Linked DNA regions of Homo sapiens: region 1 is linked to region 2. Evidence: fine-mapped expression QTL. A gene starts in region 2. The other region holds a variant in brackets. All regions are shown on one strand. Distances are between the middles of the regions.

The links. PIP is the estimated chance that this variant, and not a neighbour inherited with it, causes the effect.
Region 1: its variant is fine-mapped to the expression of LINC02370 in tibial nerve (GTEx, PIP 0.99).

What each region holds. Positions count from the first base shown.
Region 1 is chr12:131,365,285-131,380,843 of GRCh38, forward strand. LINC02370 (long intergenic non-protein coding RNA 2370) reads left to right here. Exons shown (of 5, transcript NR_103736.1): 3 at 672-1,731; 4 at 1,840-2,055; 5 at 2,163-2,271. Among named protein-coding and RNA genes, the nearest start is that of LINC02370, 26 kb to the left of the region's middle. RefSeq lists an enhancer at 15,262-15,559. The variant AGCAGCAGTCCTGTG/A (reference allele first, on the strand shown) is at 6,112.
Region 2 is chr12:131,339,513-131,355,071 of GRCh38, forward strand. It overlaps LINC02370 (long intergenic non-protein coding RNA 2370), which reads left to right and starts at 7,958. Exons shown (of 5, transcript NR_103736.1): 1 at 7,958-8,149; 2 at 9,816-10,032. RefSeq lists enhancers at 1,002-1,575, 1,576-2,151, 7,018-7,655, 8,848-9,392 and a silencer at 6,252-6,476.

The DNA.
Region 1 (15,559 bases), 26 kb after region 2:
AAAAGACTGAAACTCACTGCAATAGCTGATGCCAATGAGGGTCTGGGGGATGGATTCTCAGGACCCTCTGGGGGCTGGTAAGTGTCCCCTGTTCGAAGCTTCTGGGGGCAGTTTGGTGAAATGTGCCGAAAGGCTTTCACATTTGGAGATGTTTGCTCCACGAAGAAATGCCTACAAGGACAGGCTCACAGGACCTGTGACTAGAGCCAAGCTCCCGAAGCATGTAGGGCTTAGCTGCTCCCACTAAGATCACCAGCCCTGAGTCACTCCCTCTGTGCCCTTCCCCTACCCTCGCATCCCTGTGGGAGCTGTCCCTGCCTCCACCTCTCCCCCACTCCCCGATCAGGGACTTATTGTTTTTTGGTTTATGCTGGAGGAGCAGTGACAACAGACCAGGGCCAGGGGTGGAGACCCACACAGTAGGTCCACAGTCACTGCGAAAATGTGCACGCCACAATGTTGAGTAATTTTAAAAAAGGACCTTTTGTATATTAGGACCCATTTTGTTTCAAAATACATGTATGACATCACTATGCAGAAAATGTTAAAGCTGTAAAAACATGAACAGAATGCCTGAAGCGTGGGCCGTGGAGGGGCACGCTGACCTGCACACGCCTCCCACTTCATGGAAATGCCTTCGCGCTGCTTACTTTCTTGCTTTTCTTTCACAGGAGGCTTGTGTCACTTTTACAACCAGCGAAGTCACGTGTAGGTTCCGTGTCCAGGAAGAGAACCCCACCGCCTCCTTCTGGATGGCAGGTGTCCCTCTCGGCTGAGCAGGTGTCTGGGACCATGACATCCAACCTGGGCTCTCCTGGCCCCCAGAGAAGAGCTGCCCAGTGCATGTGCTGGCTGCACCGTGACGTCCCCTATGAACGAGGCCCACAGGCAGTGGCTGGCTGGGGGGATGCCCCTGCCCTGAGCTGGAGTCTCCCCAGGTGGCTGCTTCTTCCCCACCCCGAGGGTCACAGCCCAGCCCAAGCTCCAAGGGAATGGAGCAGCTGCCTGCACCAAGCTTCCCTCCTCTGGAGAAAGCACCTCCTCTTCTCCCTCACGTGCTCCCTGATGACCGCCAGGCTCCTTGACATGGTTCCCAGGACCAGCCTCTCCCAGGGTCCCTACTCCCAGTACCCCAGTCCTCACCATTTGTGACCCTTCAGCCCCTGCTGAACCCTGCCAGCCCCAGGACAGGCCACAGCTGTCATGCCACCTCCCAGCCATGATGAATGGGGAACGGGGAACTGTCTGACCTTGGGCTGGGTTCAAAAGCAGGGTCAGCCCAGGCACAGAGCCTGTTTGTTTGAGTGAATTGAGTGGGAGGCTGCTTTCTCATCGGGCTGAGGAGGGTTCAGAGGATTGTGGTCTCTTTGTTTTCATTCAAGGCTCCATCAGCCGGGGCCCTGGCAGGAACCAGAGTTCACTCAACCGTTCACAGAAGGGTGCCTTGCAGAGGCGCAGGCAGGGTGAGCAAGGATGGCGTGGAACTCGAGGGGGGGTGCCACAGTGGATGTTGTCGCCACCTGTGGCCTGAGGAGCAGGGCAGGAGCCATGCTGCTGGGTCCCAGGGAGGCCATGCGGGGCACTCCACAGAAGCTGGGTCTGGAGACTGGGGGTCCCCGTGAGGCCATATGGGGCACTCTACAGAAGCTGGGCCTGGAGACTGGGGGTCCCCGTGAGGCCATGCGGGGCACTCTACAGAAGCTGGGTCTGGAGACTGGGGGTCCCCGTGAGGCCATATGGGGCACTCTACAGAAGCTGGGTCTGGAGACTGGGGGTCCCCGTGAGGCCATGCGGGGCACTCTACAGAAGCTGGGCCTGGAGACTGGGGGTCCCCGTGAGGCCATGCGGGGCACTCCACAGAAGCTGGGCCTGGAGACTGGGGGTCCCCGTGAGGCCATGCGGGGCACTCCACAGAAGCTGGGCCTGGAGACTGGGGGTCCCCGTGAGGCCATGCGGGGCACTCCACAGAAGCTGGGTCTGGAGACTGGGGGTCCCCGTGAGGCCATGCGGGGCACTCCACAGAAGCTGGGCCTGGAGACTGGGGGTCCCCGTGAGGCCATGCGGGGCACTCTACAGAAGCTGGGTCTGGAGACTGGGGGTCCCCGTGAGGCCATGCGGGGCACTCCACAGAAGCTGGGTCTGGAGATGAGGGTCCCCGTGAGGCCATGCGGGGCACTCCACAGAAGCTGGGCCTGGAGACTGGGGGTCCCAGCTCTTGCCAGCAGCACAGCCCCATGCAGGGAGGGCACGAGGAATAAATGCCGCGACCTCAGCCTGTCTCTCCAGCCTGCTCTGTGCCCCAGGGGAGACTCCATTAGTGGAGCCCAACTCAAAATAGGGAGGGAAGGGAGCCTGGATGGACAGAGGGCCCCAGTCATCTTAGGGCGGGTGGAGTGGGGTCGGGGGAGCCGGATGGGGCCTGCAGGGCAGCGGGTCCCACCCAGGCCCACCTGCAGACATCAGGGGCCTCATCTGGGAATGCGGGGCCAGGATGCTCTTGAACAAATGGAAGTTTTGGCAACTCTGGACTTTGGGGTAATAGGCTGGGACCATAGAGATGTGACCCACAGCTCCTGTCCATGCTGGCTCTCATGGCCACTGGTCTCCCTCACTTGGTCTCCGGCCTGCCCTCTGCTTCCGAGTCCGCCACTCCCCACCCAGCCTCTGTCATTTGCACGCTGTTGATGAACTGTACAGCGCGGAGGTGGAAAATGATAATCTCTCCCTCCTCAAACAGCTCTGGTCCCACTAAGCCCAGTAATAAGGAGGAAATGCAAAATGAATCTGCCGCAGAAAACCAATAAGCGCCGAGGCTCAGAGCCTTTGGCAGGGAAGAGCACAAAAATGCCAAATACAATTTTTTTCTATTAACATTATATCCGCAGGCTCTTGTCAAGGAAATATCTGATCGGATCCCAAAACGAGCAATTATGAGAGCTCACTGTCTGAGCGAGACGCCTCTGGCAGAGGAATTTAATTTTGGAAAGTGTCCTATCTCAAACCATGGGTCTGGCCTGCTTTCTGGGGGAGGAGGCCAGACCACCAGGGAGAGACTGGTCTGGGGGATGCGTCCCTGTGGCAGAGGTGACTCCCGGTCAGGCAGAGGATCCAGAGAGCACTGGAGGCTGAGTCCTCAAGGTCCCCAAGCATGAGGCCTTTGAGGTTGGGGCTGGGGGTGAGGCTGGAGAGTCACAGAGCAGCAAAAGCCTGGGGTCCTGTGTGCAGCATGGACAGCAAGACACAGCCACTGACTGGACACAGAGGGGACAGGCCCTGGAGTGACAGCATGGCCTGTCGGGCACACAGGGCCTGGGCTGCCACCAGCAAGTGTGCAAAGAAGGAAAAGGTGCCCTCTCAGGACTGTTGAAATGGGAAGGTGCCCACCCCTTCTAGGGGAGGACCTGGAAGAGGCCCCTTCCTGAACTCAGCCAGGGTCAGAGCAGGCACTCTGGGAGCTGGTAGTGGCTAGACCAGACCCTCACCACAGCCAGGAGCCCTGGGGCGCAACTGATGGCAGCTGGACCCACCCTCACTCCTGGTGCGTGTCCTGAGGGCATGCCTGCCTGCAGGGTCCCTCACTAAGGCCCTGGCCCAGGTGGTGACAGATGGGAACAGAGGAAGGGGCATGGAGGAGGCTCTGGACTCGGAACACCCACCTGGCTGCTCAGGGGGCAGGGAGGCCAGCGGCCACCACACAGGGTGGACCTGGACATTTGCTCTGGGGAGTGGACTCACTGCTGAGGGTCTTCTGGCCAGGAAAGATGCCTGCAGGTCCCACGGCAGGGCAGGAAGGATCTGGGGGCTCAGTGGAGCCAGCGTGAGAAGCAGGGAGGTGTCCATGAGCTGACAGCCCCCTCCTCAATCCAGGATCTCCAGGTGAGCAGCAGGCCACTGTTCTTGTCCTCCCCATGGATGGCCCAGATCGTGGGAAGGGTCAGGCTCCCCCAGACCCCAGAGGCAGCCCTGCCAGGCTCCAGAGTCCCAGCACCGTGAGTGCCATCCGGTGACCCCAGGTCCTCCGCAGACACTTGCTCTCCATTCATGGTCTCCTCCTCTCCTCACCTGATCCCCTTCAGGACTCCTTCCTTCAGCCTGGAATCCACCTCACCGGATCCCCAGCTCCTGCCCTCCGAGCACTGTCCTGGGAGTGTCCTGGCCTCTCTCCAGCGGGGCCAGGCCTGGAGCTGAGCTCTTCTTTCCGGGGCACTAACCTTGGAGGGCCTGGACAGAATGAGTCGGGGCAGCACCTGCAGGATTTCTGTTCTAACAACATGCCCCAGGCAGTTCTCCTAGGCCTGATTTCAGCAGAATTGGACCCTCTGCCCGGGAACCTATGTGGAAGCTGAAAACTTGGCTGGGAGGGGAAGTGGATGTTCAGCCCCATGCTCCCATCTTGGCCAAATGTTGGAGCAGATCCATTCGCAGGCTCCAAATGTGCACATACATAAGGGTTTGGGGAACTTTTGCAACGCTGCCTACACAACTCACGGGGACGTCAGCACGTGCGTTGTTTGTTTGAATGGAACCGGCTGTCTTTGGGGCTCTGGAGTCACTTGCAGAATGCACAGTGCCCTCTCTCTACTCCCTGCCTCCCTTTGACCATTGATTTGTCCAGTGGATGCCAGCATCAAACCAGCAGGACAACAAAATGCCGGCATCCGTGACAAGGACCTGGGTTGTTGGCCATGGAAACCTAATCAATGTGGAGCTGCTCATGGAACAATCCTCCACCTCCGGCATGTCAGGCAGAGCAGGGCAGGGGCAATGGGCAGGGCTTCTTGGGATGAGGCAGGGAAGAGCCAGCGGGGAGCCTCCCTTGGCTCAGGGGTCTCCTTTGTGGTAAGCAGTGAGAACCAGGGCCCTTCAGAGGGGAAGCAGACCGTCGGTGTCCAATGTGACCCCAGGAGGGTGTGGCCCACCCCAAAAAAACAGTGTTGGGGGGTCTTCTTACCTCAAGCGATGCCCCGTCGTGTCCCTAGCCAACCTGGGTTTCCAGGAATAGATGTGGGAGGAGGGACCCCCACGAAGGAGGTGACTTTCCTGAACAAAGCAACCTCCCAAGACTCTTAGAATCTGATAACCCTTCACTCTTACTCCTCAGGGGAGAAGAGTCTCTTCCGGCCAGGCCATGGCAACCATGGGTTTGATGAGCTGTTGAATTTCCTACTGGAAATCAGCAGCCCAGAGCCCTGCTTCTATGGCAGGGTCAGGCAGGGTCAGTCAGTGCTCGCGGCATGGACTCGGGAGCGAGAGGGCCAGTGTCCTGGTTTACAGAGCGTGGGGTGCAGGGAGCTGATTATTCACTCTGTGTCTCCATTTCGTTTTTTGCAGAATGAGCTTTGGTGTGGATTTAACCTGAACAGGGCAGGCACAGAGTGTATGCTCTGTGTGAATTGACCTTCTGTATTTTCATCCTTCAGACGTGGAACCAATAGAATCTCCTTTATAAATGTATCGATCATTTCTGCCCAGAATCTCTTCCTGTTCTTAATCACTTGGCCTGAGGCTCCACTCCTGACCCCATAACTGTACAGGGTTCCCTCAGGCAGCAGGCTCCTTAAAGAAAAAACTTTACTCTTTTTTTTAATAGAGTAAGTGAGTCACATCCTTTTCAGAAGTAGCATCCTAACGTTAGTACATAAGATGAAGTCACAAATAGCAGAATGACCAAAGGCAACACCTTCGTAAGCCCTTGAAATACAGTGACGGACACAACACCCCTCCCTGGACCCATGGGTGTTGCTTCCTGCAGCCAGGGACCAGGTTCCTGTGTCTCCATCAGAGCCCCAGGCCAGGGAGTGAGTCTGCATTTACCGGCTGTGTTGCATGAAAAGCGTGGGCCTCTCTATGGCACGAACATGCACCTCGGCTCCCTGGAGGAATGAAGGGAGGCCCTAAGTGTCAGGCAGTGACCGCTAACCAGGGACCACAGCTTCACTGTCAGGGTCTACTGGAGCCGTGGCCTCACCAGGGTCCTAGGCTGCTCATCCCCGTGGCATGAAGGCCAACCAAGTTGGTGGAGAAAGAAAATAAATCACCGCCTGCACAGTGAAAATTCTGTTGGACGTTGAGACGGCTGTGGCGACCGTTCTCCTCTGCATCTTACCTGTG[AGCAGCAGTCCTGTG/A]GAGCGCAGCAGCGCCAGTGTGTTCTCAGGAACCTTCTGTCCGAACGGAACAGTTAGTGTTGCAGGCGTGGTCTAGTCGAGAGACAGAATTGACTCAAGACATTTCACAGGGAGGAAATGTAATGCAGAGAATGGGTGGAAGAACACAGAAGCCAAACCCAGGGGCGTGGAGCAGTCCAGAATTTAGCAACAGCAGGAATCCAGCACACTGCTCTTTGTCTTGGGTTAGAGGGAGAAAGACGGAGGCAAAGCTGGGACTTCAGTAACAGCAGACGCTCCCAGACAAGCCAGACACACCGGAGGGAGCGAGACAGAAAAGCACCAGGCTGTGGCCTCCCCACATCTCCCGCCTGCCATGTCCTGCTGAGGCCTCCCATTGGCCAGGGATGCTGTGGGTGGGCCTGTTCAGGTTCTTGACATCTGTGCACGAAATAATTTGGGAGCAAGTCCAAAGTAAGAGTGGGCAAAGAAGTTTATTGCAAAGCGAAAGTGTGCACCACTAGCTGGGTCAGAGCGGGCTGCTCTGGAATAAGACAGTGAGACTGGCACTGGGAAGTTCCTTTGATGGGAGTCTCACATGATTATTCCTGAAGGAGCAGGAACTAAGCATGTTGTGGGTGGGTTCCTGGGCCTACAGAGGCCGTCACTGTACATGCTGGCACATACATTGCCTGTCTCATTAGCATTTTAAATCTCTGCCCAGGCATGTGTTTTTCACTATTACAGTGAGCAAAGTTCAACATAAGGACATGGTTCTTGGCTCGGCCTTTGGGACTTTTCCTCCAACAGTCACTCCTCCTTCAGCAAGGAAGTTGCCCACTGCGGGTGACCACAGATGTCTGTCCCAGCCACTTTCTGGAGCGTCCGTTACTGACCGGGGCCCCTGTGCTAACCTGTTGGCCCCATTTGGCTTGCTCTTAGCCGCCTGCAGGTAATCTTGCCTGTTGCCTCGGTAACTGCCTGCTTAAGAACTGCCCAGAAATGGGGGACAAGGAGGCCAGGGAGTACAGCACCCTTGGGAAGCAAAGAGCAAAGCAAGGTCAGCGAGTGGGTCCAAGGGCAAAAGCAAGTGGCCCGCATGTCTGTGCATCTTTGAGGTTCCTGGAAGGTAAGTTTAAATGTTTGCTGTTTTTAATATATTGTGGGGCTTGGGGGCCAATTTTTTTTATCGTGGTAAAATACACATAACATAAAATTGACTATCTTAACCATTTTTAAGTGTACAGTTTGATGATACTAAGTACATTGCTTTTACTGTGCAACCATCACCACCATCCAGCCCTCCATCCATCCATCCCTCCATCCATCAATCCATTCCTCCCTCCATCCATCCCTCCATCAATCCATCCCTCCATCAATCCATCCCTCCATCGATCCATCCATCCATCAATCCCTCCATCAATCCATCCCTCCATCAATCCATCCCTCCATCAATCCATCCATCCATCTGTCCATCCCTCCATCCATCTGTCCATCCCTCCATCAATCCATCCATCCCTCCATCCATCCTTCCATCCATCCCTCCATCCACCCATCCCTCCCTCCATCCATCCATCCCTTTGTCCATCCTTCCATCCATCCCTCCATCCGTTCATCCATCCCTCCATCAATCCATCCATCCATCCCTTTATCCATCCTTCCATCCTTCCATCCCTCCATCCACCCATCAATCCCTCCCTCCATCCACCCATCAATCCCTCCCTCCATCCTGTGAGTGGGATCCCACTGCACCTGCATCACCTCCCCCAGGTGCATCACACTGTGGCATGTGTTAGAAATTCCTCCCTTCTTAAGTGACTGATAATGGGGGTGGGGTGGGCTCACCTCTGTCCTTCTGGAATGTGTTTTCTACGTCCTTTATCATTTTTCTGGTCCCTCCTTTACTGCATTGTCTTCTTTTGTGTTTAGTCGATTTTCTGTAGTGAAATGTTTAAATTCCTCTCTCATTTCCTTTTGTGTTTACTCTGCAGCTATTCTCTTTGTGGCTGATATAATAAAGTTGCTACACTCTGACATGAATTTATCCTGGTTAAATGTCAATAACACAAAAACTTCCACTCCTTCACATCTCCATTCCCACTTCCTTCAGTTGTTGATGTCACAGAATTATATCTTTATATGTCATGTGTCCAAAAACAGAAACAAATAATTTTTAAATGTATCTGTCTCTTTAACTATGTAGAAAATAAAATGTGGAAACCCAAAACAAAGTTATAATACTACTGACAACTTTTATACAGTACCTGTTTACTATTCAATTGGGTTGTCTATTTCTTACTGACTTACAGACTTTACAAATATATTCTGGATATGAGTCCTTTGCCAGTTACGTGTGCCTAAATAGTTTCTCCTCCTAGGTGGTTTATATCTCTACTTTCAAATTTTTTTTGAGACAGGGTTTCACTGTCACTCAGACTGGGGTGCAGCGGCAAGATCATAGCTCACTGCAGCCTTGATCTCCTGAGCTCAAGCCATCCTCCCACCTCAGCCTCCGGAGTAGTTGAGACTACAGGCACACATCACCACATCTGGCTAACTTTTAAATTTTCGTTTTCGTAGAGACAGGGTGTGTCTATGTTGCCCCGGGTGGTCTCCAACTCCTGGGCTCAAGCGATCCTCCCACCTCAGCCTCCCAAAGTGTAAAACATTTTTTTAACTTAATCCCAACTGTGATAATATAAAACATGTTTTTTATTTTAATTCCTAATTTTAATTAAGTGCAATCAAGACATTTTAACCCTTAAATTTGTTTCCTATTAAACGTCCATCTCTGCCACGAGGCCAAGAGTTATTCCCCTGTTATCTTCTAAAAGTTGTTTCACAGTTGGACTATGGTCTAGCTGGAAGTGATTTGGGGGAGGATAAGGAACATTGGAAGATCCATTTATTTGCGTATGGATATCCAATTGGCGTGGCATTATGGGAAAGACTCCTGCCACCCTGCAGGGTCACCTTTGTCATAGATGAAGTCTTGGTGCACACGTGTGATGATTCCTAGGCCCTCTGGGTGACCAGTACTTCGGTTGTCTTTCTGACATTGTTGCTTCATCACCAGTGTAACGTCTGAGGGCACAGTCCTGCACCTCGGTGGCTGCTGTTCTGCTCATCTTGGATGTCCTCTTTTCTTACGTGTTTACACACACGTTAGAATCAACACATTTATTTTTGCAAAAACAATCTTCCAGGATTTTGAATAGGCTTGCCTTGAACGCATAGAGACATTTGAGGAGAATGTCATCTGGACAAGATCCTTTCAAGCTAAGGATGGTTTGGGAGGGTATATGTATCTGTTGTGGTGGTGGTAGCCCATTAAATACTGCTTATAAACAACCTCTTTCAAAGGCAATTTGGCAATGTCTATTAAAATAGCGAGTGCACTACTCTGTTAGCCAACAATTCTACTTCTAGAAATTTATCCTAGCGTTACACTCACTCAGATTCACAAAGACAAACTATTTTAATTGGATCTTAATAGTATCTTTGTTTGACAAGATGAGGAATAATCTAAATGCTGTGTATAAGGAACTTGGTAAATAAACTATGGTGCATCCATATCACAGAATACTGTGGCAATGTTAAGAAGAATGAGGTTGGTCCATATTCCCTATGTACAATTGTGGACCCATATATTGTTAAGTGAAGAAAAAAGGAGAATGAGACAGAAAGAAAGAGGGAGAAAGAGAAATAGAAGGAAGGGAGGGAGGGAGGGAGAGAGGGAGAGAAGAGACAGGGAGGAAGGAAAGAACAGGAAAGAGAGGGATGGAGGGAAGATGGGGAAACACAGGCCCAGTGCCTTCCAGAAAGGAGCTGCCTCTGTGTGCGTGTGGATGCGTGTGCATGTGTGTATAGGTGCGTGTGCGCATGTGTGTGTGCGTATGTGTGGCGTGTGTAGGAAATATATGCGCCTAATCTTAAGATATCTCTTAAAGGACACTAAACAGCTGCTAAGGGTTGTGCCTCCAGGAACACAAGCTGCTGGCTAGAGATGGGGGTGGGAAGATGTGGCTGAGATTGCCAGCCGTTCAGCAGGCTTGGCCCATCTTCCTTCTGGGCACAGTGAGACCACATTTCTCAGCCCACAGTTGGCATGAGAATGTCTCTGGGCAGCGGTCAGGTCACAGGCCCGTCCTGTGCTGCTGTCGTCTTCCTCTCTGAGGTCTTCCAGCTGGAACAAGGCCTTGACAGCAGGCGACCCCTTGCCCCACACAGTGGAGTATTCTTTTGCTCTGGAGTGGCGTTTCCCAAAGCACATCTGCAGGCCTCTGCCTCATGCAGGGTCACCTTGACACTGTTGAAATGCAGATCCCTGGCACCATCTCTGCAGAGTCATACTCTAGATAGAGGCCCAGGATCTGGGGTCTGTGTTTCAAGGAGCCCTGGGGGGCACTGCCTTTGAGAGCAATCACTTGACAGCAGCACTCCCCAACCTGCCTGATGCACTGGGATGATCCTTACACACCCAGACCTAGAGCCCCGTCCACGGAGATGCGAGTTCGGGAGCTCTGGGGGCCCAGGAACCTGTATTTCAAGCACACGTCTGCATCCCCGGTTCTTACCATGCAGAGAACTTGGGAAGCTGCTTTAGGAGACCCCCACCTTAGATGGTGTGGAACCCCCTCATTCTAGGGCATGGGCACGCACAGGGACTCCCTCCCCAACAGCTTCGGGGGCTGTGATGGCATCACAGCTGGGGGAGGAGAGCCAGGCCGTGCACTCGCAGTGCCCAAGTCAGGGGGCCAGCCTTTGTTGTGTGCCACCGGCCTGCCCTTGAGGGACCTGCTAAGTGTTTTGCATCCTGCCAACCCCCTCAGGGAGTGGGCAGGCACCCGGTCACTAAGAATGACGAGTGGCAGCAGGAAGCGGAGACACACCTGACTGAAATTGGTGACCTTCCTGGGGAAGCTCAATCCACAGCCACTGCTGAGTGCCATTGTCAGCTGTTTTCTCCATCTTGAAATCAGCATCCCAATGAAAGTCCTATGGGCATGAGCTCGGCCAGACCGCATTGATCATCTGTCTCACTTTTCTTTCTATTCTATTTTTAGGGGTTTTTTTCTCCTCTTCAAAGAAACAAGTTGTGTAAAAGTTGCAGAAGATTGAGGAATACTGAAAGAGATGAAAGGCCTCGTTTCATCCAGGCCTCAGGGATGAGCCCCGTAACAGGTCAGCGCTAGTTTTTCAGAGCCATCAGACACAGTCATGTGAATGTGTGTGTGTGATAGGTGTACACACACATACATACATGTGCACATATAGTCTTCCAGGGCACACAGGATGGTCACTTCTTCAGTAACTGCTACTCAATATTTCATGGTATAATTATGCTGTGATTTGTTTACTACGTTCTCTATTGGTAGAATTTTCGCTCTTACAAATTTGTTTCACTTTGTGCTCCTATAATTTTGCCATGAATAATCCTAAAAATACACATTTGTGTAGTTATACAAGTGGCTCTGTCCTGCCATGGTTGAGAGAGGAGACTCGGGAGTTGGATGCATGGGTTAGAGGCACAAATCCAGGCTCAAGGACTTACTACCCATGTGAGCACTGTCTTAGTCCATTGTGTGTTGCTCTGAGAGAATACCTGAGGCTGCGTAGTTTATAAAGAAAAGAGGTTTATTTGGCTCACGATTCTGATGGCTGAAAAGTCCAAGTTTGGGCAGCTGCATTTGGTGAGGGTCCTAGAATACTTCAACTCATGGCAGAAAAGAGAAAGGGCATCAGGTGTGTGCAAACAGATCACACAGTGTTGGGGGGGAAGCCAGAGAGGGAGACCAAGGAAGAAAGAGAGGGAGACCGATGAAGCCAGAGTGGGAGATGAAGGAATCCAGGCTTTTAAAGCATCCTCTCTCTCAGAAACAAGTCCATTCCTGGGAGAGCGAGCACTCACTCACTACCAAGAGAACAGCACCAAGCTATTTGTGAGGGATCCATCCCCATGATCCACACACCTCCCACCTCTCAACACCACACTGGGGATCCCATGTCAACCTGAGTTTTGGTGGGGACCAGAGAGCTACATCCAAACCATAGCAACCATGGACCCATTACTCAACTCCTCTTCACTTTCACCTGCTAAGTGTGGAAAATTTGTACTGTCAGTCCTTACATGAGTGCTTACATAAGAGAGCTTGTGTGAAGAGTAAGGTAACATACTCAGGCATGTTGGAGCAGTGCTCACCTCACAATAAGTTCTTGGTAAGTGTTAAGTACAGTTTTATTACTGGTGAGGAGTTTTCTAGTAAATACATAGAGGTAGAATTGTTGAGCGAAAATATAGTTTGGCCACTTCTTTTGTCCTTGGTCAGGTCACAATCTCCTGTAAATCTTTCACAAAACACAGTCAGTGATTTACATGCTTCTCCTTTAATCTCAGACTTAGTTTTTAAAACTAAGTGATTGCCATCTTTGCATTTCATCTCAGTGCTGTAAAATTATCCCGGCCTATGTGCGGGAAGGGGTAAGGGCCCCTTAAACAAAGATGGAGTGAGTGATGTCCATTCTTTTGCTGTTTCACTGCCACAGCAGGAGAGATGGGAACGGGGGGCAGATGTGGAAAATATTTGGAAGGAGATCTGATGACATGTGTCAGTGTGGGAGTGAGAGGGGGAGAACCAGCGCTAACTCTTGCATTACCGACACGAGAAACTCAGCGTCACTGAGCCTGCAGGAGCGTGGTAGAGGGGATATAGGTAGGGTTCGTTGTGGGTAAATTTGAGAGGCAGTTCAGGGTGGTGGACAAAGCTGCAGACTCTGTATCAGAGAATTAAACGAGACAACCCCAGCAGGGACTAAGTACACAGCAAGCGCTCAGTCATGCCATCATGATGAATGTCAGACGTCCCAGGGTCATTCAGGTGTCCACCAGAGACATGACCACAGGCTCCAGGGTGGAGACGTAGAAGCTTGTGATCTCCGTGGTGATCGCGGTGGAGGTGGGAAGGGATCGGCTCCGCAAGCTGTCCTGCCGGCTGGCTCTGCTGGCTGCCGTAATGAAGGCTCCCCGGAGCCATGCCACACCTGCCCGTGTGCGTGTCGCCCGTGGCTGTCCTCACTCTACCACGGTGAAGTTGAGTGACTGCAACAGAGATAGCGAGGCCACAAAGGCTCCAATCCCTACCGCCCATCCCTTCCCAGGAAGCCCTTGCCAACAGCTGGATTCTATTCCCGAGCAGGAGCACATATAGAGGAGGGGCGGGGTCTGGGGCCTCAGGAGCTTCAGCTTAGATGTTGCTTACAGGAGGAGAGGAGGGGCCGGCGCAGGGCCCCAGGGGTGTCCCGAGAGATGGAGGAGACAAGTCAGGGAAAGGGAGGGTTTCCATAAGAGAAGGGCCAGCCCGCCCCTGCCGCGATCCTTGTGGTTGCTTTGCTCTTCGCCTGAGGACCAGATTTCTCTGCAACCTAATCTTCGAGGCAGATGAACCCCACAGCCCTTAAGGTGACGTCTCCTCTACCTCAGAGGAGATGTTCGGTCTGAGCATCTTGGAGTGTCCTGGAATCTTCTGGCTCCAAGGCCAAATGCCCAGGAAAGGGCTGGGGTTGGGCCGGCTCCTGTCAGGTGCTGGTAAAGGCCTAGTCAACTGTCCGTGATGGGCAGGGTCTCACTGCAGGCACTCGGCAGCCGGCCCACCCCGGGTGTCTGTAGTCCCACGTCTTCAAGACACCCTTTCAGTGGCTACCCCCGAGACTGGGCAGTGGGAGCCCTTTATTCTGGGAGCCTGATGCAGTGAGAAGGTGCATTTGGCACTGCGATTCCACAAGGCACGCCAGGCATCTATGCAACTGTCCATTGGAGACTCCAGATCCCAGCTGCAGACAGGGTCGCAGAGCGTCCCCACCCACACACATAGCCTGACAGGCGGCCTCAGCCTAGCGTGGACATGGAGCCTTCACATAGCACTCCGGCTCAGGCCACCATGACGTGCTTAACTCTGCTACCTACCGAGCCCCAGAGTTCCCCCGGGGGCCCCACGTCTGAGACCGTCGTGACCACAGACACCAGGGTGGTGACCAGCTGCCTCCCCGGGGGGCCTCCCCTGCTGTGGGCGGCTCAGGGCTGCCCCACCAGGATGCCCCCATCAGCCGCCTGGTCTCTCAGGGTCTGCCGCGACTGCCCCATTCCTGATTCTAGTCTTTGCTTTTTGAGACAACAGAGCACAAATTCCATTTCAGAGGCAACCGTGAGGCGTGCGACATGGCCGCAGATGGGGTTTATTTCTTGGATTTTTCTCTCCAGTGTCCCGTCTGATCTGAGCTCTGTTCATTAGAACTCAGGGTGTTTCTTGCTGATTGAGTGAGAACGGACACAGAGCCCTGAATTCTCCTGGAGGCTGCTCATTGGAAAGTCTGCTCCAATTCACTGCAGATATATAAAGCCTCGCACCAGACTGCATCTCGGGAAACACTGTTCTGCTCTGTTCTATTTTGTCCTGTTCTATTTCCCCCAAAGGCTGAGTGCGGAGCTTCCTGAGGCAAAACTCCTGTGGACCCACCAGGAAGCTGGTCTTGAAAGATGCTGCACCAGACGACTCGTCCACTCACTAGAGACTCACTTTGCCGGAGAAGGGCTCGGGCGTCGTTGGAAGAACCCAAAGCCAGGCATGAAAGGACCTCAGCCAGGGAGGGCACCGCATTCACACAAATGCTGCGTGTTCCCATGGAAACAGCACAAAACCTGACCGAGGAAATGAATGCTGAATGTAAACTATTTGTTTAATTTTAATGGGAGTCAATTTTTAGCGGTGTATTCCCAGTGCTATTTGAAATTTTCATAGGGTAACAGTAAATGCCTCTAATCTTTTTGTTTTTAATTGGCTTTTCCAGTGGACTGATTCCCCGTGAATAAAGGGGAGAAACGCAAAGCAATGTAAACAAAGCCAAAAGCAGGAGCAACGCCAGGGCAAACGGAGGCAGAGTCCTCGCGTATCTGTGATCAGCACCGGCCCATCCTGGGTGCAAGAGAGCCCGCTGCCAACTCGCCCCCGTCACAGCAGCTGCCTCAGCCTCCCCAGCCAGCTGTCCCTAGCCCTGGACCTCACCACCCCTGCCAGCCCGTGCCATCCTCAGTTTCGGGGCTCACTGCGGCTGCCGCTGGGCTTGAGGGAAGGGCAGTGGTGGGCGGGAGAGGCGGGAGGCCCTTCTATGGTGCCCGTGGAGTTGTTTCCTGTGTGGGGTGCAGGCTGCCCAGCTGTGTTCACTGTGAAAATCTACCCGGACACACATTCACAACTGGTAAATTGAACTTCAATAAAAAGGTAAAATGTAGGTCACTCCCTGAGCTGAGAAGGAAGCTCTCATTTATGAGAGGGACCATGATGGACCACGCGCCATTTATGAGCTGCTCACCGCGGACAGACCGTGTGTCCAAATCGGGGCCTCCAGGGCCCAGCGAGCTGCTCTGACCTCCGAACGTGAGACAGAGCTACCGCCAGTTC
Region 2 (15,559 bases):
TAGTAGCAAAAGGCTGGCCTCACTGTTTATGGGTGGTTGCAAAGGTGGCTATCTTAGTATCAGAGGCTATCAAAATAATACAAGGAAGGGATCTCACTATCTGGACTACTCATGATGTAAATGGCATACTAGGTGCCAAAGGAAGTTTATGGCTATCAGATAACCACCTGCTTAGATACCAGGTGCTACTCCTTGAGGGACCAGTGCTTCAAATACACATGTGTGTGGCCCTCAACCCTGCCACTCTTCTCCCATAGGATGGGGAACCAATCAAGCATGACTGCCAACAAATTATAGTCCAGATTTATGCCACCCAAGAGGATCTCCTAGAAGTCCCTTTAGCTAATCCTGACCTTAACCTGTATAGGATGGAAGCTCATTTGTGGAGAATGGCATACAACGGGCAGGTTATGCCATAGTTAGTGATGTAACAGTACTTGAAAGTAAGCCTCTTCCCCCAGGGACCAGCACCCAGTTAGCAGAACTAGTGGCACTTACCTGAGCCTTAGAACTGGAAAAGGGAAAAAGAATAAATGTGTATACAGATAGCAAGTATACTTATCTAATCCTACATGCCCATGCTGCAGTATGGAAAGAGACACTGGGAAGGATGAGGCAGTTTCTAAAATATCAATGTTCATAATACATGGGGAATTACATTTCTGCAACCATGTCTTTACATTTTAAATGAAAATACTTGATGTGAACAAGTGAGGAGATAAGAGTGAAGGGGTGGAGAGTTCGTGGAAATGGTTTAAAGCCCACCAGCGTGGAGGTGGTGGGGGCACCTCCAAGCACAGGTGGCAGATCCCGCAAGACAGGAGCAGCAGTTAAGGGGGCTGTGGGTGAAGTTGGGGGGCGGCTGATTGTGGGGGAGCTTGTGGTGGGCGGGAGCCCACCCTAGCTCAGACCCAGGGTCTCAGGAGGATGAAGGACAGCAGATGTGAGGGGTGGGGCCGGTCCTGCGGGACTGGACAGACCCAAGCTGCCAGGGCTGAGTCAGCCAAGGCTGTGGGGCCCCCTGTGTTACTGAAACCAAAGACGATTCTACCTCCCCAAGGAAGGTATGGGAGCCCAATGGAGTTCGAATCTCCTCTGAGCACCACACTCTTTAGAAAGCCCAAACACAAATTCTCTCCCTATTTTAAAAACTTCTTCCACTTTCAGTCCCCGAAACATGTCCTTAGACTGCCTTCTGGGGACTTTTCCACGGCATGTTAAAGGTTTGGGACTTTCAGGACAGTGGGAAGACATCGCAAGCTGTGTAACAGAGGAGTGGTGATTCACCCACGGAGTCATTTCTTGGACATTTGTGAGGCTCAGGATGTGCCAGGCCTGGGGCCAAATGCCTGCTGCACTCTCTCCTACAGCCGACAGAGACCCTAGACAGCAGGTGCTGTCCTCAGCCCCTTTCTCCAGATGAGAAAACCAAGGCTTGGACCTGCCCGAGGCCCCAGCCAGCACCTCAGCGGGGCTCCTGGGTCCTGGGGTCCTGGGGTCTGGGCCGGGCGAGCCCAGGGCCCTGCTCTGAGCAGACACAGCCTGCTGCTTTTCCACGGTTCTGGAGTTAGAAAACAATGGACACACGCTGTGAAAGCTGCTCAGCCCTTTGTCTTTGAAATGGCACCAATGTGGCCGGTTCTGGGAGTTCCCGGGAGAGACAAAGTAACTTAATCTTCCAGAGACTCAGTGAAACCAGCAATAGCTCTGGTGTCTCCACAAAGTTGGACAACTTCTATCCAATTAATTACCAGAACAAAACCAGAATCAGAAAACATCTTGGATTGCAAGAGTCTTTGGCAATACAATTTAACTCTTTCCACCCCTGGAATTAGAAATCCCATTAACAGCCTTTTAAGTTTGAAACAGCTGATTCCAGCTGAGCCTCATTAATTAGCAGCACCCGCTGGCTGTCTCTTCTCGGGGCTCCTAGGGAGAAGCACAGTCACTCAGAAAATGAGGCCAGGGTGATGAGTGACACAAATGGGCCCACAGCCTGGGACACAGGGGACACATCCACATCCTGTGGGAGCAAGGCACACCCAGCTGTCTTCCCATGGGCATCTGTAAGCCCCTCTGTGCACTGGGTTTCCTGGCACTACCCTCCCTGTGGAACCTGGCCGGCTGCCAGGAGAAGCTCAGTGGGCATCATGGGTGCTGGGCGGGGCCTCCCGTCTGCCAGAGGCTTTTATGAGCCCTGGGTGACAGCAGCCTGGGAGTCCTGGAGGGGACAGCTGAGGGGATGTCTCTGCTGCAGGCCACACCCCTGGCTTATCTGGGAGTCCCCTGCTCCCTCACTCTGTCCACATGGTCTGGTCTGGGTGGGGCTGACTCCACCCCCAGGTCAGGTGTGCTCCTGTGACCCAGACCTGTGAGAGGAGAACATTCCATTCCCATGGACTGGGTGATGGGTTCCGGGGTGGGCACTTGGCTGTGTGTCCGGAATTGGTTCCTTCCAGTAGGTTCTTGGTCTCGCTGACTTCAAGAATGAAGCCACGGATCCTCACGGTGAGTGTTACAGTTCTTAAAGATGGTGTGTCCAGAGTTTGTTCCTTTAGATGTTCAGATGTGTCCGGAGTTTCTTCCTTCCAGTGGGTTTGTGGTCTTGCTTGACTTCAGGAGTGAAGCCACAGACCTTCTCAGTGAGTATTACAGCTCATAAAGGTAGTACAGACCCAAAGAGTGAACAGCAGCAAGATTTATTGTGAAGAGTGAAAGAACAAAGCTTCCACAGCGTGGAAGGGGACCCAAGCGGGTTGCCACTGCAGGCTCGGGTGGCCAGCTTTTATTCCCTTATTTGGTCCCACCCACGTCCTGCTGATTGGTCCATTTTACAGAGTGCTGATTGATCCATTTTACAGAGTGCTGACTGGTCCGTTTTTACAGAGTGCGGATTGGTGCATTTACAAACCTTTAGCTAAACACAGAGTTCTGATTGGTGTGTTTACAATACTTTAGCTAGACAGAAAAGTTCTCCAAGTCCCCACCCGACCCAGAAGCCCAGCTGGCTTCACCTCTCAATCCCCCCTCTAAACAGGACACCCCAACTGCTGCTGGGAATTGGGCGATGACAGCTCTAGCTACTTCCTGCTGGATAGGGGCAAAGAAGGGGCCCTGCAGTTGTAGTGTCCTCCAGAGGGGAACTCTTTAGGCCAGCCGGTCGGTCCAGGTGTCCTCAATAGAAGTTCTTAGTTGAGCTCATTTGGGGTTTCATTTGTAAGACCATCTGTAGCTTGATGGCCTCAATTCTAGAGGGAACAAATTTGACAAGGAGGTTAAAAATACAGGGCCTGAAGGCAAGTAATAGCAAGATGGCTGTCACAGGACCTAGAAAGGGGAGAAGCCATGTCACCCAACTCCAGAGGGTGGTATAAGAGTTTGAAAGGCATTGTCTGATTTCAGAAGCCTTTTCCGGTAAACACCGGGTGGCATCTCGTACTATCCCTGACTGGTTAATGTAAAAACAACACTCTTCCCCTAAGAAGGTGCAGAGTCCTCCTTTCTCAGCAGTGAGGAGGTCTAGGTCTCAGCAGTTTTGGAGAGTCACTGCTGCCAAAGAGTCTATTTGGGATTGTAGAGTAAGGATAGATGTCGTTATTTCTTGCAAACTGTCTGAGAAATCCTTTGAGAGTGTGTGGTAGTCGGATAATGAAGTAGATAAACTGGCTATTCTGGTTCCTTTAGCAGTAGCCATTCCTAACCCTGTAAGTAGGGGTATTAGTTGTATGGCTCTGCGCTGACAGACTTGAACTTTGAGGGGTACTGATAGGGTCTGATTTCCTGGGGCAGTGTTAATGTTGGGACTTAGAAAGACTAAGGTGCAGGTGCCTGTCCAGGTGGTGGGGAGGCAGATATAGGTCGACGTTCCACGTAAGAAGAATATACCTTGGCTGGGTAGACAGAACTGGTTGTGTATGTTAAAAAGGTGTGAGTTTGTTGTTTTCATTTTCCCATACTCCTAGAGTACTTGCCAAGGTAGCTCCGGTGAGCAGCTGGAAAGGGGTGTTGGGAGCAAACTGAGTGGCTGCCTGCATTCTATTTTCCCATTGGAGAAAAACCGTTTTGTATCCACTAGGAACCATTCGAGAGAGTGACTGAAAGAGGGGATGAGAAGGCATTCACTAGTGGTAGGGGCACTGCTGCAGGGGTTCCAGGGGTGAACAGTCATGCAGGGAGTATGTTTGCCATCACAAAACCTGAACTGTTTGTTAAGCAGGGAAGAGGTGATTTTGGGGGGACCTGAGAAGTGGACAAGCTGTCTGAATGGAGCTGTTTGGGTGACTCAGAAGTTACTATGATCAGTTGGGGCTTGAAGATGTAGGGTGTAATTACACTGATGGGGTGGCAGGTGCCCCAGGGGCAGGCCTGATAACAGGTTGCACTGGATGCATAAAGGGGCTTAGAAAGTTAAGATGGTATTCGTAGTTACAGGGCAGTGTATGGGCTTTTCATTGCTTGTGTAATAGGTGAGGTTGGAAATGTAAGAACATAAAAGTTGGATTGTGGGTCCTGTTAGGGTACTCTTGGTCCTATCAGAGATGGGGAAGCCGGCTAATGGTTGCATATTTAGAAGTCGGAAAGGGTCTTTTCCTTCATAATGAGGGTGGTAGGTTAAGCTGGTAAAGACCCAATTTTTTGTGGGAATGGGAGTGGCAATGTAAGCAGAGGTTGATAGAGAGATACAAAGCCAACAGTCATTTGCCCAGGAAGGACTGGACTGGTTTAACATTGAGTGGGTTAAGTTGAGAGTCTTGTAGAGGTAATTAGGAGCTAGAGGAAGGGGAGGGGTGATTGTATGAGGTATCCAAGGAAGTAGGAGGGATAGACAGGCAGAGTAAATAGGAAGGTAAAAGGGTGCTCTGGAAGACAAGATCATTTTATCCAGGCTGAGTTAAAGGTAGGCATAAATTGCTGTCAGAAGGAAGGAAGATAGAAAGAAGGTTAATGTGATTAGGATTTTCGTCCCGGTAGGAGCTACAGTATGTAGTCCTATCCTGAAGAGTATGGTTAATACGCTGCTTAGTAATATGATGAAATAGTAAAAGGATTCCATTAAAGGGGGAAGGAGAGGTGTTACAGATAAAGATTACGTAGGCCTTCACTTATCTTTTTAAGGAGAAAAGGGTTTTCCTTCAGGATCAGTGGTAGGAGCCTTTTTAGTCTGGGATGTTTCCTTCCGAAATAGGAGATGCAAGTCCTCCAACGGTTCACAGGTGTATCAAGACTCATCTGGCTGATCTTGGGACCCCCGAGCTGACAGTTCTGCAGGTTCCTCAGGGGTTGTGGACACTCTCACACCCAGTGCAGCCGCCTGTGACCACCCAAGGACAGTGACGTGGTGCTGAATTTGCCTCCTGTGTGACGTCAGGACCCTGCTCCCCAGTGGGGGCCTCATCCCCAAAAATGTCTCTGGAGTCTTTGGGGTGCTGCTGTTGACACATGAGATCAGTCCTGCCATCTGATCTGGCACTGCTGCTGGCCCTGCTGCTGGTCACTCAGCTCCTGGCCACCATGCTGGGGTCTGAGCCCCACGGTCGTCCCCACCTCTCAGCCCAGGCACAGGAGGGACACAGGGAGTAGAGTGGGGTGATGCCCCCGTCACCTCCCGAGGCCCCGGGAGTGAGTGCCGGGACCCTCTGTCCTAACCCTCTGCCTCCCTGGGTGTTAACCCACCTGGGCAAAAGTGCGTGGTTCAATGCCAAGGCCAGGGCCATGGGCTCGGCGTTTCCCTGCAGAGTCCCTGGGCTTCTCGGCCCATCACAGGCTTGAGGATCAGCACCTGCAGCCCGTGGTGGTTGTTTTCTCATCTGTAAATGCGGATTTGGGCTTTAGAGCTGACTCTTTGTCACCGGGAGCACAGCCTGTCTTCTCTGTTCCTTTCCTTTGTGACTCAGAGGCCCTCTGCGCCTTGGTGGGAGGAAGAGGAATCATCCTTGTTGCTGACCCCCTGTGACGGTGCTGGCTGGACGGGGTGTGCATCGTGCCAGGAGCTGGTCCCTCATTCATCCTCACAGCAGCCCTCCCGGGCTCGCCCGCCGTGACTTTCACTCCCATTTCACAGACGAGGACCCTGAGGTCCAGGGAGGCTGAGTGGGCTGCCCTCCCCAGCTGGAGCCTGGAGGGGATTTGAACTCGCGCCTCGGGGCAGAGCCTGTTGCTGGCTGGGCTGGGCTGAGCTGACTCCCCAGGGCCATCAGCTCCACTGCATCCTGACCACCTGGGAACTGTGGCCAGCACTTTTCAGGCTCGAAGGCATGGCTGCTTACAGCGTGCCCGAGGATGGGTGTCATCGTCCTCACCCTCTGCACTCACTGTACCCGTCTTTGCAGGGTGAGGGCCCTGCCGGGTCCTACTCTGGGCACTGAGGTACAGAGGGAAGCCCTCCTGCCCTGCCCCAGGAGGGTGCTGGTCTCCACCAGGACACAGATGGAGGTGGATGAGGCCACAGCCCAGAGAAGAAGGGCAAGGTGGCAGGGGGTGCTGGTAGAGGAGTAGGACTAAGGGTGGTAGTGACACTGGTGAACCCCAGCTGAGGAGGGGCATGGACTCTTCTGCACATCAATGGGGAGCCACAGTATGTTGTAGAGGAAGCTCATTCTGCCCTGGGTCCCCAGGGAGCTAAGGTCTCAGCCACATTCACCCTCACAGCTGGGCCCTCCAGCCCCTCCCGCCCTGGGAAGTGTGGCCTCTGTTTTTGGTGAGGTCACAGCTGCAGGGAGGGCCAGGGCGCTGGATGCCTCAGGCTGCAAATGGCTTCACCCAATGCCTCCGGCTGTGGGGCAGAGGCCGGAGCTAGAAATAGACCCGCAGTGACCCCCACCCCAGCCACACAGTGCAGGCCTCCTGACCACAGGTCCTGGGCCACCCCTTCCTGCTCACATGGGAGGGAACCCTGAGCTTGAGGGAGGCTGTTCCCCAAACAAGGCCACCTTGTGTAGCTCTCTGAGGGCCTTTTATAATCTCCTTCCCTCCACCAGGACAGCCCAGCTGCAGCCCGTCCTCACCAGCGACCCCTGGGCCCTTCGCCTCAGGGCCAGGCAAGCGGGGAGCAGACAGCAGTGTGTGAGGAGGGAAAAGAGCCGGACTACGGGGACCCCCAGCCGCCCGCCAGCCCCTCCCCTGCAGCCTCTCTTCCCAGATGTCAAGGTCCCTGAGCTGCCCCGTGCAGGGAGCAGGGTCAGGTGAGGTCCAGCGGAGCCCAGAAGCTGTTGCAGGAGCAGGACGGAGGAAGCCCTGGGGGAAAGGCCCGGCTCCTGTCCTCCCTGTGTCCCCTCCCCTTCCTCTAAATGCCTGCCCTGCCTCCTGCAATGGTGGGATGGCCTGGAGGTGCAGAACGAGGCTGGCCCTGCCTTCTCTGGGGAGCTCAGCCACTGGAGGTGCCTGAGTCTGGGTTCATCATTGCAAAGACAGAACCTGTTCTGCCGTCTTTAGGGAAGGGAAAAGGGCCTGGGGGAGATGGGACAGTCCCCCTCATATCATTGGTGGCAGTGCGTGTAGGAGCAGTCTGTTTGGAGGACATTTTGTGTAATATCTATTCAAATCAGGTGTGCCCAGCCTAACCTGGGGGCCAGCCCTTTACCATCCTCACACGCTCACATCGGCAGCCAATACCTGGACCGTCTAACCAATCAACTGGTTCCATTGACTCACTGACTGGCCTAACCCAACGGCATGAGCAGGGCTGGGGCCACAGGGGAGGAGCAAATCTAGACAGCAGTACAATTCGCCATGTCTCCAGAAATTCTTTAGGACATTCTATTGTGCCTGTCCAGGCTCTGATGCTGGCCTCAGCAGCCCCCATCTCCTCCTCACATGAGGTCCTGGGCTGTTCCACTGAGCCCTCCACTTTCTGAAATGAATGGGGACACGTTCTATTGTTATTCGAATTGTGGGAAATTCGACAGTTATTCGAGTTGTGGAAAAGCAGGCTCCAGAACGTCTTGGAGATATGACTTAGCAATCTGCAGGTGTCCACGGTGAGTCCTCCCCAGTAGGAGGAGACAGGAGTCTCTCTGGAAGGCGAACGCCACAGCTGCCCAGATGTTCTCCTGCAGGGGAACCAGACACCATCATGACCCAAAAGGGCTGCACTTCTCGGGGTTTGCAGAATGTGGCAGAGGTGGAAAAACTCGAAAGTCCCTAAACACAGGTAAGCAGACAGCGCAGTGGTGGTGGTGTCTCCCACACTTTGAGTCTGTGTTTGCATGTGTGTGCACACGTGTCTATATGTGCATTTGTATCTGCTTCTTCCATGTGTGCATGCCTCTGTGCATGTGTGTGTGTGTGCATGTACTTCTGTCTCTGTGCATGTGTGTGTGCATGTGTGTGTCTGTGTGAATGTTTGTGTATCTGTGCATGTGCATGGTTGTGGTATACATGCATGCGTATATATGCATGTGTGCACATGTGTGCTTGTGTGTGTCTCTGTGTGTGCATGCATATGTGTGCATGTGTGTGTGTGAATGTGTTTGTGTATCTGTGCATGTGCGTGTTTGTGGTATACATGCATACGTATATACGCATGTGTGCATACGTGTGCTTGTGTGTGTCTCTCTGTGCACGCATGTGTGTGCATGCGTGTGTCTCTCTGTGTGCATGCATGTGTGTGCATGTGCAGATTCATGTTTCTGTGTCTGTGCCATGCACGTCTGTACATATGCACATGTGCATGGGTGCATTCATATGCACACGTGTCTTGTGTACATGCATGTGTGCCTGTGTGTGAGTGTGCGCCTGTTGAGTCAGGTCTGTGAGTCCCCCTGAGGGCCAGGAGGCCGTGGGCAGGGCTGGTCCTGGAGAGCACTTCTTTTCCACGCACTTTGGCTTCCCCCGCTGAGCGCACCCCCCGCACTTGGCTGGCTGCTTTCACCCCAGCCCCGTTCCTCCTGTGCCCAAGAACCTCCTCCTCGTCTCCTCCTCAGCCACGCAGCTGGTGCAGCACAGCAGACCTGCACTGAAATGCATCGGGGAGAAAAAGGGAGGTGAAGTCAAACATCCCATCTGCTCCTGTCCACGTCCTCAGGTTCACTGCCAAGTTCTGACACTGCCGACTCCCCACACTGAAGGCAAATGGCCTCCCCGAATGCAAAACTCATTCCTTGCTTGCCAGCACCCAGAGATTCTTTCTGAAGATGTTTATCTTTTCTCATTCACTCTTCAAAATCCTCCATGTAGAGAAAATGCCTTAGAATTTCCTGAATAAGGAAACAACAGGCAGCATCCTCATCTACATCCCCTCGGGATTGCTGAATGGAATGCAGAGAGGAGAGGAGAGTGGAAAATAGCCCCTGGGTTTTAGGAAATATTAAGCAGTTTTTCAAGAGCCAAGAGCCCTGCAGGAGGCAGAAAAGGATATGATTTTGCAGTTTTGAATACGCTTTTCTCTGGGAGTAGCACTTTTCTACCAGAGGCTGACATTGGAGGGACCACCTGACATCAGATTAGACATTCACAAAAAGGCGCTGCAGGCAAGTGCTTCATAAAAAGACCTTCACCAAAGATGCACCTGACCCCCGGGCTCAGGGAGGCTCTTGTTAAATGGAGGATATTATGCCTGCTCTATTTACTGTGGGGCCTGCTTGGGGCTAATCAGAGGTTGCTTCAAATCTGTGCAGGTAGATGTATTCATGCAATAATACCTCATCTCCACTATATTGTTGTTTTAGCAAAAGATACTTTCATTCATGTTTTCATCTTTTTATTGTGGACAATTTTAAACATGCAGAAATGGAGGGAGAAGGGTATGGAGAACACCCATTTACCATCAGCCAGATGTCACAATTACCGATAACTTCCTGCATTTGCTTCTTCTCTAGATTTTTTGGAATTAATTCGAAGTACATTGCAATCACGATGGCCTTTTACTTCTAAATTCTACACTCTGCACCTCTAAAATATACAAGCATGTCCCAGGACCACCCTCAACTACTTCAGGTCCCTCGGAAAAGGGTAAGGTCAGCCAGGCTGGACACCACGCTGTGGGTGGCCTTAGGTCCTGCAAGCAACTGTGGCCACCAGCGTCGCAGCAGCAAGGTGAGCCTGAGCAGGAGCACACTGTCCCTACCTGTCTCTGTTTCTTCCTGCCCCTTGGGGTGTGGGCACCTTGCCAGCTGGGAAGCTGTAGTCTGTAACAGTGATCATCGTGCTCTTCGCTGCCGTCATTTCCAACATCGTCCGAGAATTTATGAAGTGCCGAGAATCCCTCTTACGGCTTCTCCTATATTCAACTACTGAATCCACATAAACCTGTTTTACAGATGGGCTTATAGAAGTGCAGCGATGCAAATCCAGACCGTTTAGCTTCCAAGTTCATACCCACCATCATCTTCTGCTCAACTGCAGAAGCATCAGGGTGAAGCCGGCCGTGCTGGGCTGGTGGGGCAGGTGGCAGTGGCTACCATGCAGGTCCGTGTGGGACTCCCCAGGGGACTTCATGCTGCATGATTCCCACCTCATGTGTGGACCTTGGTACCAAACTTGTGCTTAGGATTCAATTCCACATGTGAGTTATTCCACGATTCCAGTTCTGTACGTGTTTTCCATGTACGTTCACTAAAAACAGACCGAGAAACTTTATATCCAACTGATGACTCTGCCTAAGACTGTAGCAGGATTGATAAGGAATCAGAGACCGATGGGGTTGAGGAGGATATTTATTATTTAGGTACACCGGCCCAGTAGGACTAACATTCCAATGACTGAGCCCTGAACAAAGAGTTAAGTTACCTTTTAAGCATTTCATGGGGTGGGGTGTTGTGGGGGGGAGATCTGTGCAGGGGGAAGCATATTACAGAAGCGAGAAACAAAGACAGTTATTCAACTGAGACATGTATTACATCATTTCTTACTTTTCAAGGAAAAACATGTTTTGCGACTTGAGTTTATCTGTCTGGTGACCTTGCAGCTGCACAGCTAGGGAAACAGGGTCTTCACAATGCCTGGGAAGGGAGGAGAGATAAGGCTCACTAGCCACAGAAAAACAGGCAGTTAATTTTTAAAGGACTCCAGCTCTTTCTCTTTCTCAAGGGGAATTGGGTTTTCTTTTTTTTTTTTTTTTTTTTTTTTTTTTTTTTTTTTTTGAGACGGAGTCTCGCTCTGTCACCCAGGCTGGAGTGCAGTGGCGCAGTCTCGGCTCACTGCAAGCTCCGCCTCCCGGGTTCACTCCATTCTCCTGCCTCAGCCTCTCCGAGTAGCTGGGACTACAGGCGCCCGCCACCACGCCCGGCTAATTTTTTTTTTTTTTTATTTTTTTTAGTAGAGACGGGGTTTCACCGTGGTCTCGATTTCCTGACCTCGTGATCCACCCGCCTCGGCCTCCCAAAGTGCTGGGATTACAAGCGTGAGCCACCGCGCCCGGCCTGGGTTTTCTTACATACAACTGAGTTTCTGCTTACACATTCTTTAATTTCTTTTAATTCCTGTTTTAAGACCAGAAAGAAGATGTGGAATGTGGAGGGAGCTGGGTCGATAGAACATGGAGTTTTGATTGACTTTTATTACCAGGAACTTCACAGTGAGAATTCCTCAGAGAGCATGGTATGGTAATGCTGTTCATACTCAGGTGCATACGTTCACATGCCCACATTCAGATGCCCATGCTGGACAGGTGCCCATCCCAGGCAGGTGTTCACACTCAGGGGCTCACTCTCAGGGGCTCACCCCAGGAAGGTGTCATACACAGGAGCTCACTCTCAGGGGCTCACCCCGGGCAGGTGTTCACACACAGAGGTTCACTCTCAGGGGCTCACCCAGGAAAGTGTTCACAGGGGCTCACTCTCAGAGGCTCACCCCAGGAAGGTGTTCACATTCAGGGGCTCACTCTCAGGGGATCACCCCGGGAATGTGTTCACACACAGGGGCTCACTCTCAGGGACTCAGCCCAGGCATGTGTTCACAGGGGCTCACTCTCAGGGGCTCACCCCAAGCAGGTGTTCACACACAGGGCCTCACTCTCAGGGGCTCAGCCCAGGCATGTGTTCACACTCAGGGGCTCACCAAGGCCCACCTGGGGAGCACAGGGGCTCAATCCCACACTTTACACCAGCAGTTCCTTGCAGACCTCAACAGCTCTGCTCAGCAGTGTGGGAGAAAGAGGAACATTTAGAGAACAGAACCGTGGGCGATATTATTTGACATGTCCCTCCTCTTCCTCTTCCTCCTGTCACAACATCAGGATTTCCCTGAAGAAAGTGACCTGCACTTTGACCCAGCCCGTCACATCACCAGTGAGCATGTGACCTATTACTGGCCAATCAGAGTCATACACAGCCCAGCCTCATCATGGTGATTGGATAAGAGGTGGGCACATGACCAAATCAAGCCAATCATAGTCCCAAACATCCTCATCACAGTGATTGGATAACATGTAACCACATGACCAGATCAAGCCAATCAGAGTTACACACACTCTCATCACAGTGATTGGATAAGGGATGGGCACACAACCAAATCAAGCCAATCAGAGATGCACTTCCTCCTCCTCGCTGGGACTGGATATTAAGGGCAGTAGATACTGATTTTCATTTTGGAAAATGATGCAAATTTTCCTTTTTAAAATTGAATTATGTAAAATAAGGTAGTTGATGGAAAGGAAAAAATTAAGTAACAGGTGATAAGCTAATACCTCAAACATGGAGCTCTGTGAAAAGCCAGCCTTGAAGCCCTGAGTTAATCCAGCCACTAGAGCCTCCCTGAATCCTGGCTGAGCCACTGGCCCTGGAGGGTGCAGGGGACGTCGTCCACCAGGTCTCCCTGCAGCTCCGCAGCAGGCTGCGGGTACCAGCCATTCTAAATGCAAAGCACATGCCCGCCCGATGAATTATGAATGGTGTTTACAATTCCTCCAACACAACCGGGCCATCAGTCATTTATAGCTGCACCAATGGCTCTGCCACTCTGAGGTCGCTGGAAGAGAAGGACTGACCAAGCCTGATGGGTTGGAGGAGAAGCCAGCGGAGGTGCCGGGATGGCCTGGCCGGGCCTGCTGGAACCAGAGGCAGGCCGATTCCAGGACCAGTGTTCTTTCCTTGGAAAACACGGAGTGAGCTTCCTGACGTCGCTGACCACTTCCATGAGAATGGAAGAAGGAGGATGCACCCCGGAGGGGCAGAATTTCTTGTCCTGGAATGCCGGCAGTCAGCCCCTCACTCCCGTCTTCCCGCAGAGGAGGCTCTTTGCCTTCTCAGGCTCTTCAGGAAACAGATTCCACTCGTCACCGATAAACCAGCTCCAGGTTTCGTTGTCCTTGCTGCCAGGCTGCCCGGCTGTGTCTGGCCTTACCTGATGGTCTGGCACCACAAGTGGGTGCTGCGCTGTATGCTCACCAGTTGCTGCTCCTCCTTCCTTGGTACGTGGTGAAGCCACATTGCCCAGCCTGCCTGGCAAGGAGATGTGGTCACATGGCTGCGTTCTCATCAATAGATGGGATGGGGACCGTTTCTGGCCGAAGGAAGCATGATTACCGCCTTTATGATGTCTTGTCCATTCTCCTGGAAGGACACAGACATCAATGAGATGGTGATTCACATCATGGAAGGGGTTTGAGTCTCAGAAATACACCATGGAAGAGAGTTACCTGTCTCATAACCACTTGGACTGCCATAAAGGCAAGACATAAGCTTCTATTGGATTTGAGTCATCATGTATTGTATGAATGTGTGCAGTTATTTAGAGAGAAACTTGCTTACTGACACAGACACCATGTGTTGAGTATCTAATATGTGCAGAACATTGTGCTAAATGCTTTGCATATACAGCGTTGCCTAAGCCTCACAACAACCTGCAGGCCTGGAGACCATTATTTTCCCACTTTAGAGATGAAGAGATTTAGATTTAGAGAAGTTAAGCTTGCCCTGGGTCACACACCTACTAATGAATAGAATTGGGACTCCACAGCTCAGGTTCTCAGTGCCAGCTAGAGTGTCCTCAAAGCAACATGATGAAGGAGTATTAGCCATGAAGATATTCTTTCTCCCTGCTCCATCCAGCAGGGAAGGGGCCTCCCTGGAGCTCCACAGCAATAGGCCCCAAGAAGGTGGGCAGACAGGAAGGGAGGCCACGTGTGCCATTGCACTTCAAGCTCAGCCTGGGTTGGGGCCTGCATGCCAGTCAGGAACCTCTTTCTGCAAATGGCAGAAACCCAGTTCCCAGTGGCCCACACAGAAAAGGCCACATACCTGTTGTTCATCTACCCCAACGTTCCAAGCAAGGCTGGATCAAGGTGTTTCTTGATGAACTCAGGAGTCTCCTTCTCCATCTCTGTCTCTGTTTTCCCTGAAGAGGAAACAAGGCAAAAGAAACTTGAGGCTCATGTTCTGAAAGCTAGATAGTGAAGTGCCCTCTCCTCTGTAGCAATCACTGAAGACCATCATCTACACCTGCAGCAGCATCGTCACCTTGCAGCAGCAACTCAGGGTCACTGACTTGCCCCTGCCACCTGCAGCAACCACTCGGGCTGACTCACCTGCCCCTGCCACCTGCTGCAACCACTCGGGGTGACTCACTTGTAAATGCTGCTGCATAAGCAATAAGGGTGCACCCAGGGAGGGAGCAGCTGGAAGGGAAATGCAGAGAGAAGTTCTGGGGGTTCCAGGTGGGACGAGTGATCAGCTGACAGCCCTCCAACCACGATGTGCAGTCCCCCATACCACGACCCCTGTCCCCATCCTGCCTCTGCTGAGGAGTCTGAGAGCTTAGTCCTTGGGGTCACCCTGTTCATCCCTGCATATGTGCAGATCTGCTCTCACGCTCCTGAAGTGCTGGAATTCGTGCAAGTTCAGAATCTCAATTATTTCTGACCTCAACCCTGTAAGCCTCATGTAAGTCTTCTTCCTTTGTCTGAACTCACACTAGCCACTGAAGGGAGAGATCTGGTGACTTCATTCAACATTTGGTTATTAAGCACCCCCCTGTACCAGGCTCTGTCCCAGGCGCTGGGGACACAGCCCCAGGAGAGCCATGGCTCTGCTCTCCTGGAACTTATGTTCCGGTCCAGTGAAGAGACATACAAGTATGTGAGAAAATGAATACGATAATCCTCAGTTGTCAAAAGGGCCGTCGATGAAACAGAATGGACCATGTAACAATGTGGCTGGGGAGAGGCCATTATGAGCTGGGGCAGCCAGGAAAGATCTCTTAGAGGGTATGATATTGGCACCAACAAGGAGCCAACAGCATGCAAACCTGGGCAGGTGCATACCAGGCAGCGGCATCACCAGGGAAAGGTCATGCAGCAGAAACCAGTGTGGCCCTGTGAAGAGCAGAAAGGAGGCTGAGGGCAAGGAGAGGAGGCCAGAGCTGCAGCAGGTCAGCAGGGGTCAGGCCCCGTGTGCCTTACAGGCAGGGGAAAGGGTCTAGCTTTTGCTAAGTGCCCTGGCCACTGGTAATATGGGGAGGCAAGACAGTGTGCAACATGCTCTGCCCCCCGAGGGGCCTCCCAGGCTGCACTGCAGAGAGAGGTGGGAATGGAAAGAAATGAGTTTTCAGGCTACTGCACTGGTCCAAGCAGGAAATAAGTGTTGCTCAGACTACAGCGGTGGCAGTGGAGATGGAGGGAGGACAT